Linked DNA regions of Homo sapiens: region 1 is linked to region 2. The links come from fine-mapping of genetic effects on gene expression. A gene starts in region 2. The other region holds a variant in brackets. All regions are shown on one strand. Distances are between the middles of the regions.

Region 1 (4,388 bases), 64 kb after region 2:
AAGCCAAATAAAGATTCCGAATGTGAGATGCACCTGAAAAAGATTAGGAGATCAGATCGAGGATATTAAACTTAGGGCCAAGTCTAACATGCTCTCCTTGGATTGTGTATGTCTCAGCAAAACAAAACAAAAACGCAGCTTCCAGCTCCATGCAGGAGACTAGGGGCTGATGGGGACGTGGGGGACGTTTCTCCTCACCGCTTCTGTTTTCCCTTCTCTGGTGCAAGGTGGGCTAGAGTCAAGAGGACAGCTCTGCTCACTTCCACCCTCCTGGCTTCACTCAGCTAGCATTTGCTGAGCACTTCCTAAGTGCTGGACAATGACCAAGTGCCAGGTGCACAGATCTGAAAAGGAGAGCACAGTCCGATTAGAGGAGCAGATGCACAAACCCATACTTGAATATGTCAGCATCCTGCCTTGCTCAGTTGTACGGGCTCTAGATGCCCGACTGTTAGGGTTCAAATCTCAGCCCTGGCATTACTTGCTGTATGTCCTGGACAAGTTAATTTACTTCTCTGTGCCTTGTTTTATCCTCTATAAAATGGAGGTAAGAAAAGTACCTGCCTATATAATGTATTGCTCACCCCACCTTTTTTTTTTTTTTTTGAGACAGGGTCTGTCTCTGTTGCCCAGGCTGGAGTGCAGCAGCGTGATCATAGCTCACTGCAGCCTCGACCTCCTGGGCCCAAGCAATCCTGCCGCCTCAGCCACCTAAGTAGCTGGGACTACTGGCATATGCCTCCACACCTAGATAATTTACTTTTATTTCTTGTAGAAACAGGGTCTCACCATGTAGCCAGGCTGGTCTCAAACTCCTGGGCTCAAGCGATCTTCCCACCTTGGCCTCCCAAAGTGCTGGGATAAGAGGCATGAGCCACTGTGCTTGACCTGTATTGCCTGTTGTATAACAAATTACCCCAAACTTAGTGGTTGAGAATAACAAACATTTCTAAAGTCACAGTGTCCATGGGTCAAGGATATGGGTGTGGCTTATGGGTGATCTGTCAGGAAGATGCAATTAAAGTGCTGGAATTGCGGTCATCCCTGGGCTGGACTGGGGAAGGACCTGCTTTCAAGCTCACTCATGAGGCCATTGGTGGCCTCAGGTCCTTGCTGGCTATTGGCCAGAGACATCAGGTGCTCACCACGTAGGCCTATAGCGCTGCTCACAACTGACAGCCTCTCCCAGAGTGAGGCGCGCGCGCACGCGCGCGCGCGCGAGAGAGAGAGAGAGAGAGAGAGAGGGAAAGAGAGAGAGAGAAAGAGAGAGAGAGATTTAGGAGCCAGTTTTTTACTGTCTAATTTCAGATGTGACATCCCATCACTTCTGCCATTTTCTATTTGTTAGACCGAGTCACCAGGTGCAGCCTGCACTGAAGGGGAGGGGAACGCACAGGGGTGTGAACACTGGCAAGCAGGTCGCAGGGCCACCTAGACACCTGCCACTGTAGCTCATAGATTATCATGAGTGTCAAATGAGTTCACGTGCAAAAGAAGAACAGTTTCTCCTCATTCCCACTTCAAGGCTCTTATCACCACGTTGAGCTGCTCATATGATTAGAATGCTTCCTCCACCTCAAAACACACAGGCACATGTGCGCACACGGACACTGCCTGTCTTTCTATCCTTCTTTCTCTTGTTTCCTGTCTGTCTCCCTGCACTAGTTTGTAAGCTTCGGTGGTATGGATTTTTGTCTGTTGTCTCACACCTAGAAACAGTGCCTGGCACACAGCATTTTCTCTGATCAATAGTTACTAAATTGAACAATGGAGCTAACCTGTACCTCCACTGGGATAAGCAGTATTGGAATCATATGATCTCATGATTGCAACAGCGGTCCTATATTCCCATTTGCCTTTCCATTTCATCTCTGTAATGCACACTATCCTTTGTGTTGGACCATCTCCAGCATCTACAAGTGTTCCTGCATGTTGGTCAGAGCTCATGACCACACTTGGTTTCAGAACATTTCCT[A/G]TTTTGTCTAGCTCAGTTCCTACCCTCTGCAGTAGAGCAGGGATATTTGGATGGCTTGGGGTCAGAAGGCTGATCTGATGTGGCACACAGGGACTGGCACTCATCATGTGAAAGGTGGCTGTATGCCTTCAGTCCTGGGACGCTGATCTGCTTAATTCTGCCTCATTAGAAAGGGGCCACCTGCTGGATTTGTTACTGAGCCTTTTGTGTTCTACCTTGGTGCTGTGGGAGAAGCTGAGTGGCCTGGAGAAGAGCTAGGGAGTGGGCTTATGGGTGAGTACCTGAGCCTGAGGCTGAACCTGGCTTTGACTTGCAATTCTTTCAGTAGGTGAGGGTTGCCAAAACTTTAATGTGATCCAGTTCACCTGGAAGATCTTATTAAAGTTCAGCTTTGGTTTTAATAGTGTGGGGTGGAGGTCTGGAATCTTGCCTTTCTGACAGCTGCCAGGCATTGTTAAGGTAGCTGGTTCTTGGACCACACTTTGAGTAGCAGCAAGGAATCAGGCAATGGGTTCTTCTTCAGTAGTTCTTCCATGCATAGATCTAAAAGAGTCAGGGTTTCCACACTTTTGTGTGGATCCCAGATGGGCAGGGAAGGAAAAGGAAGCCAAAAGATGCAGAATCCAATGCAACTGGAGGCAGGGAGTAGAAGTGTAGGAAGACAAGAAGGACCCTTAGATGAGGTATAATGAAAAGGAGCCCTTCGGGTGGGTCCACTCCAGAAGGCTGGAGAGCAGCAGTTTTAGGTTGACTGGAACAAGAGATTGGGGTCCAGGTAGCAAAGGGCTTTGAGTGCCAGGCCTTGGATTTGGTTATGCAGTCTGGGGTTTCCAAATTCAAATGCCTATAGGGGTCAATACGCGGCAATAAGGAGCAGTGGGGCCTGTGGCCAGCCATGTGTATTTGAAAGGTCAGTTCCTACTCAGCTCCAGCTGGTTCTTGGATTGTAGGTCATCTGTAACCAGATCTTCTAATTTCTGAAGCAAAGTCCCATATCTGGGATTTTATGTGATATATTCCAATTTTTAAAAGCTATCAAGCCAAACGTAACTTATTTGCAGCCATGTCTGGCTTGAGAACACCCAGTTATGACGTAGACTGAGGCAGAAAGCAACCAGTGAAGGTTTGGGACAGGAAGTTGTCTCCTGGAGGAAACCAGCTCATGGATGATGTTCATGGCTGTTGACAGCCTTGGTCAGGAGAAGCTGTGTTTCTGGATGCCATGCTTTTCTACCTGCGACCTCAAAGTCTTCTTAAGCAGCCATACATGTGGGGAAGAGGTGTTCTGAGGACCAAAGGAAGGTGTTCACCTGAAGTCCAGAGAAGCTTGGAGACAATCACCTGCTTTAAACACAAGAACTAAATGTGCTTCTGCCTCTTCTGTCTTGCCCCTGAGACTTGGCACCACGTCCTGGCCACGTCCAGAATTGTTAGAGGGCATGATACAACCTGGGGTTTTGTAGCAAAGTGAGGTCAGAGGAATGTTTGTTTAAATTTCAATGTCATCATTTTCTAGCTTGTTGACCATTAACAAGTCAGCTAATCTCTTTTGCTTCAGTTTTCCTTGTTTACAAAATAGCTGTTGGTAATTCTACCTATCCCAACTGAGATATCAAACGATACCTCATTTGATTACATTTGATTCTGAATCTATTACCTCAGTTGATAACAGTATGGATAATATAGATACTATATTATTCCTACATTTCTACTCCCTGCCTCCAATTACATTTATTGATAGTATCTATATTATCTCAGTTGAGAATCAACCCAGTTGAGAATCAACTGAGATAATATAGAGAAATATACCTTCCACCAAACAGGGCACATCAAGCCTTGTTTCTCTACTGAGATAATATAGAGAAACACCATAGGACCTTGTACAGACTAAATGCTCAGTTAATAATGTTTTTTATTATTATTATTACAGTTTGGAGGCAACAGAAGATGAGCTTTGGAATGGTTATTAGGGATCATTCAACCTCCATACCTTACAGAGAAGGAAACAGACTCAGAGCAGGTGGGCAACTTGCCCAAGGTCGCATGGTGAAGTCGAGTCAGCTGAAATCCACCACCTGCGCATCTGCTACGTCACATGCTTCTCCCTAGCGGTGACCGCATGGCCTGGCACATGGAATATTTGTAGAATGAATGAATGAACCAGCAATCATGGAAGAACCAGCTGTTCCTCTCATTTCTTCTTCATTGTTGTTAACATTGCACCCTTGATTCATTTAAAACACATGGGGACAAGGGGGGGTCATGTATATAGGATTCAGGGATTTTTGGATTTAGAAATGGTGAAGAATATACATAGTATTGGAGTTTATTATTGTTGTCTCTCCAGGAAACTTCCCCCCTTCCTCCCTTTTCTTCCTCCCTCTTTCCCTCCCTTCCTCCCTCTTTCCCCCTC
Region 2 (4,388 bases):
GGAAGACTATGCTCATCCCCGTCTGTGGGAGGTGGCAGAGTATCTTCATCCCTCCTCACTCCCACCAGAAACCTCCATTGTCCTCTCTCACTTTGAACTCTGAGGAGAGGGTTTCTCTTCTTTGGCAACCTGTGGAAAGGGGAAGGGCTAGGGACTCTGCCAGCCTCCACGCCTCCCCAAATGCTTTAGGCCAGTCTTTTAATGCAATGTCAGTGTTGGAAGGGTCCTCAGAGATTCTTGAATTACAAAATCCTGAGAGAGAAAGTGCCCCAAGAGAAAGCACAAGGCAAATGAGAGGCAAAGTCCTCAGATTTCCTATCAGTCCAGGCCTCTCCTCACTGTGCCGTCAAGTGGGTAATGTCAACATGCATGCAGTCACAATGCACACATGTACACACTTCCACACATACAAATGCATAAGCATGCACACACCCATGTGGATACATATGCACACATGCAAAACATAGGCATGTATACAAATGTCAGTGGACCAATATACAGTGTGTTCACAGCAAGCACATGGACATTGCCTGTGTAGAAGGTTCTGGCACACAACTATACATGAGCCAGGAATACACATACTGGTGTCCAAGATGCACCTGCATGCCCCAGCTGGTGGGCTTCACCCCTAGCCAGGGGAGGGAAAAGACATTGTTTCCAGGGCTCAGGACAGACCTGTGTGCCCTCTCCTTTCTGTGGAAGCCACCAAAAGGAGAGGCAGCCCCTTCTCTCTCCCCTGGAGGCAGCTGGTCCAGTCCAGGTGCCTGTGCTCAGACACAGACCCAATGCTACAACCCTCTCCCACCAGCAAGTACACTCAGTGCTCTGCCAGCTGTAGCTCTTGGGACCGGAGCAGACCCAGGGCAAGAGGAGGTAAACATCCCAAACAGATTTCTCAGAGGCTTGGTAAGTCATGGGCCATTAAAATTTGCTCCTTGAATTTGCTTCGAATACAGCCTTCTCCACCTGGGTGCCACTCTGGAGATGGAGTGGGCCCCTCCACTCTGGAATTCTCCCCACAGGTATGGGGGTGGGGTGTTTTGAGGACATTTGGGAAGATTTCAGGCTATAGTAATGGAAGACTCTAGGTATGTGTGACCCAATAGAAAAGCAGAAATGTATTGTGTGTGTGCATGCACACACATCCTGAAGAGAGTATTCTTATCAACAGCCTGTGACTCTGCCTTTGGCAGGCAGGTGGGTGGGAGTGCCAGGAGGGGGCAGGGGATTGTAGAGGAGACTAGTGAGTACTCGCCTCCCCCTCCTCAACTCTGATGAGGAGTGGGGTATAAAGCCGGGCACAACTTAGATTCCTCTCTGCCCCCTGCCACCACACAAGCGCACGGAGAAAGCTCCATCTGGGGTGCTCGCATCCTCCCCTCCTCCTGAAGACCTGGTCTGCAGGCCTCCAGGACCAGCGCAGAGGGGCGGGAGCCTCCTGTGAGAGAGATGAGAGTCCAAAGACAGAAGGGACCCAGGAGAATTTCTGATTCAACCACGACTACTGCAAGAGTGGGCTTGGGCCCTGACAGCAGCAATCGGGCCCTGACAGCAACCATTTCCTGCAGCGAGACCCACGGCTCTGCCATCTGATAAATAGAACACAGTGGAAAACTGGACGGAGAGAGCTGGGGAGAAGCCGCCTCCACACTCCCAATTTCAATACTGAATCCTGAAGAAAACAAAAGCGAGTCCCAGTAACGACCACAGCAGGGCTCTCCTTGCCCTTCCCCCGCCCCTTCACCTCCAGGTACAGGACTTGTCCATTTAGCAGAGTGCAGGCAATTCAGAAGATGTCACTCCCAGAAATTCAAAATTAACATGATCATTAATCACTGAGGGTCTTCCGTGCACATTGCTAGCCATTTAACACAATTTATTTCCTTCAACAACATACATTTCTGTGTGTTGCCTATTATAATCCCCACCTTACAGATAAGAAAAGTGAGGTCCAGGGTCATCCTGCTAAGGTCTCACCAAATCACGTTGAAGTCTATACTGTAGTTACTTATAAATAGAAGAATGATTCGCAGTCGCATAGCGCAGTGTCAAGTCTCCACATTGGTCCTGGACTTTGGCACCTGGGGGAGCAGGGGGAGCACTGATTTGCGTGAAGGGCTGTTATCCCTCCTCTCCTCTCCTTCAGTCTTAACTAGGAGTAGCCTCAGCACCTCTCCAGCCCTCTTCCCTCTTACTCTGTAACTCAGGTCCGAGTTCCTGCTCACACACCCCTACTCTACACCTCCGACCCGGGTCTCAGATTAGCGTCCCAAGAGATTCCGATCTTTTCCCAGATTAAGATGCCCCTATCCCCGCACAATCAGCAGTTTCCCCCCTCACACTTTCCTCCCGCACCTGCGTCCAGACTGGGTCCGCCGAAACGGCCCGCCCCATCCGGGCGTCTTGGCCTTGCTCCAACCCGGCTGGAGCTGCCCGCGCCCGGCACGGTCCGCGGAGGGCGCTTCTTACAGGCACTTCCGGTCAGCGCAGCCCAGGCCGCAGGAGGGTACGGCCCTGGACCCCCTCTCTCCAGTGGGGGCTGGAGATGGGAGCGCAACTGGGGCTCCGCCGAGGTCTCTGAGGGCACTTCACCCCCGCCCCCGACCCCAGGAACTGCGAAACCCCAAATCTTCTTGCCCACCGCGGGGCGCAGGTCCTGCCCACCCGCTCTCCAGGGACGCGCGCAGAAAGGCAGTCCCGGCCGCCTCCCCGCGCCAGGGTCCGGGCAAGCGTCTGAAAGCTGTGCTTGGGCCGCAGCTCCAGCCATCGCCCCTCACCCCCGGTTCTCCCGGGCCACGTTCATTGCACAGTTTCGATTTGTTTAGGCCGGGGTCTCCTCTTCTTTCCTCAACATCTTTTTCTGTGGGCTCCCCGCCTCCGTATTCCTCCTCATCCTCTGCTCCAAGGTTTCCGTTTTTTGCACCGGAGGCCGCCCTTCTGCGACCAGCCTTCTCCGGCCGCTCGGACTCGGCCTCTGCAGCGGGGTGCACCCGGGCGTCCCTTCGGCTCCCGGCCCTCCCTCTCTCCTCGTCGCCCAGCCCTGCCTCCAACTTTGCGCCCCCGGCTGCCCCGCGCCGCGGCTCAACTGGACATCCGAACGCTCCGACTGTCCGCTCCCCTCCCCTCCCCCGGCCGACACGTGGGGACCAGCGCTGACCTTGGGTGAGGCCACGCTGTCCCCCGCTGCTCTCCAGTCACCCCTGTATCCCTTTGACTCTTGGGCTTCCGAGTAGGGGCTCCCGGAGTATTACCAGGGAAAAGGGGAGCGCCCTTCCCCTGGTAATGAGAGTAGCCACGCAATGTCGGCTGCGCAAACTGGGCCTCAGAGCGGCCAGGCCAGGGTCAAACCAGGAAGAGGGGGAGGGGTGGACAGCAAGGCTGAAGAGACCTGACTTTATTTGTGTTGCTTCAACTGGTCCTGAATGGTTACACGAGGCGCGCGCTCTTGCACACACACCGCGGGCAGCCCAAACCCTCGCTGGCTCGGCCCGCCGGCTCCTCGCCCTGCCAGTCCTGAGCCGGCTCTGAGCCACTGGAGTCAGAGGGCCCGGGCGCCTGCCTTCTCGGTGCGGGCTGGGGAGGACCTGCTCGCGAAGGGCTGCCAACTGAACTTTTCCTGCACCAGGTGAGCCCCTTCTGAAATCCTCGCTGCGGGATACTTTTTTTTTTTTTGAGGGGGCGAGAGGAAGTTGCAGAGCAGCTCCGGCCCCACCACCTCTTTCCGCAATAAAGCCACCATCCTCAGGGCGCAGAGATTTGTTCTCCTCCTCTCCTTTCTTGGAGCTGTGTGGCCAGTTCTCTTACCCAGGCAAAGCTGAGGTTTCCTGCTCGGGTTCACTGTTTACTTAGGATTTCTCTAAAACTAGCGGCGCCAACTTGCCCTCCCTCTGCGCCTTCCCTGGCGGCCCCCACCCAGGCCTGGAGGAACTTCCAGAAGGGTGAGGCCGGGCAGGCGGGGGCGAGGAGGCCGCGGCCTGGCAGGGACTGTTCTTCCATCCTTTGCTGGATTTCCCGCGCCTTCTATCCCTGCAGATTGAGCTCTGGCCTTCACCCCGGGCCTCTTAACTTCAGGTCCGCCCAAGTGCCCTCCTCTCAGCAGGCGGAGGCTCACAGCTCTGTCGGGAGTAGGGAGGTAGGTACCCCAGGGAGGACGGCTGAACCTAGTTCCACGCTTATCTGGCCTCGAGTTTCATATCCATTCTTCATGTCCTCACAGGGCTGACCGCATTGTGGTGCAAAGTGACAAGTCGAGTGTTGACTTGGGGACTGCGATGTAAGTGAGGGACCCTGGGTGTTGGTGGAGGGGAGAATGGAGGGATTATTGCCCACTCCCCCCTCCGCCGTGCCAAATTCAGCCAGAAGTTAACAAAGTTTGCTTTTCGGGATTG

Direction of the effects. Positions count from the first base shown, and alleles are read on the strand shown. Sizes are in standard deviations (SD) of each study's normalised expression.
In carriers of allele A in region 1, the expression in hippocampus of the gene that starts at base 2,474 in region 2 tends to be lower than with G alone (large effect, 0.93 SD a copy in GTEx).

Evidence for each region.
Region 1: its variant is fine-mapped to the expression of LINC01956 in hippocampus (GTEx, PIP above 0.99). The same link has a PIP of 0.9 or more in spinal cord.

The regions. Positions count from the first base shown.
Region 1 is chr2:118,769,841-118,774,228 of GRCh38, reverse strand. No RefSeq gene overlaps it. Among named protein-coding and RNA genes, the nearest start is that of LINC01956, 64 kb to the left of the region's middle. The variant A/G (reference allele first, on the strand shown) is at 1,976.
Region 2 is chr2:118,834,232-118,838,619 of GRCh38, reverse strand. LINC01956 (long intergenic non-protein coding RNA 1956) reads left to right here and starts at 2,474. Exons shown (of 3, transcript NR_199712.1): 1 at 2,474-4,132; 2 at 4,217-4,273.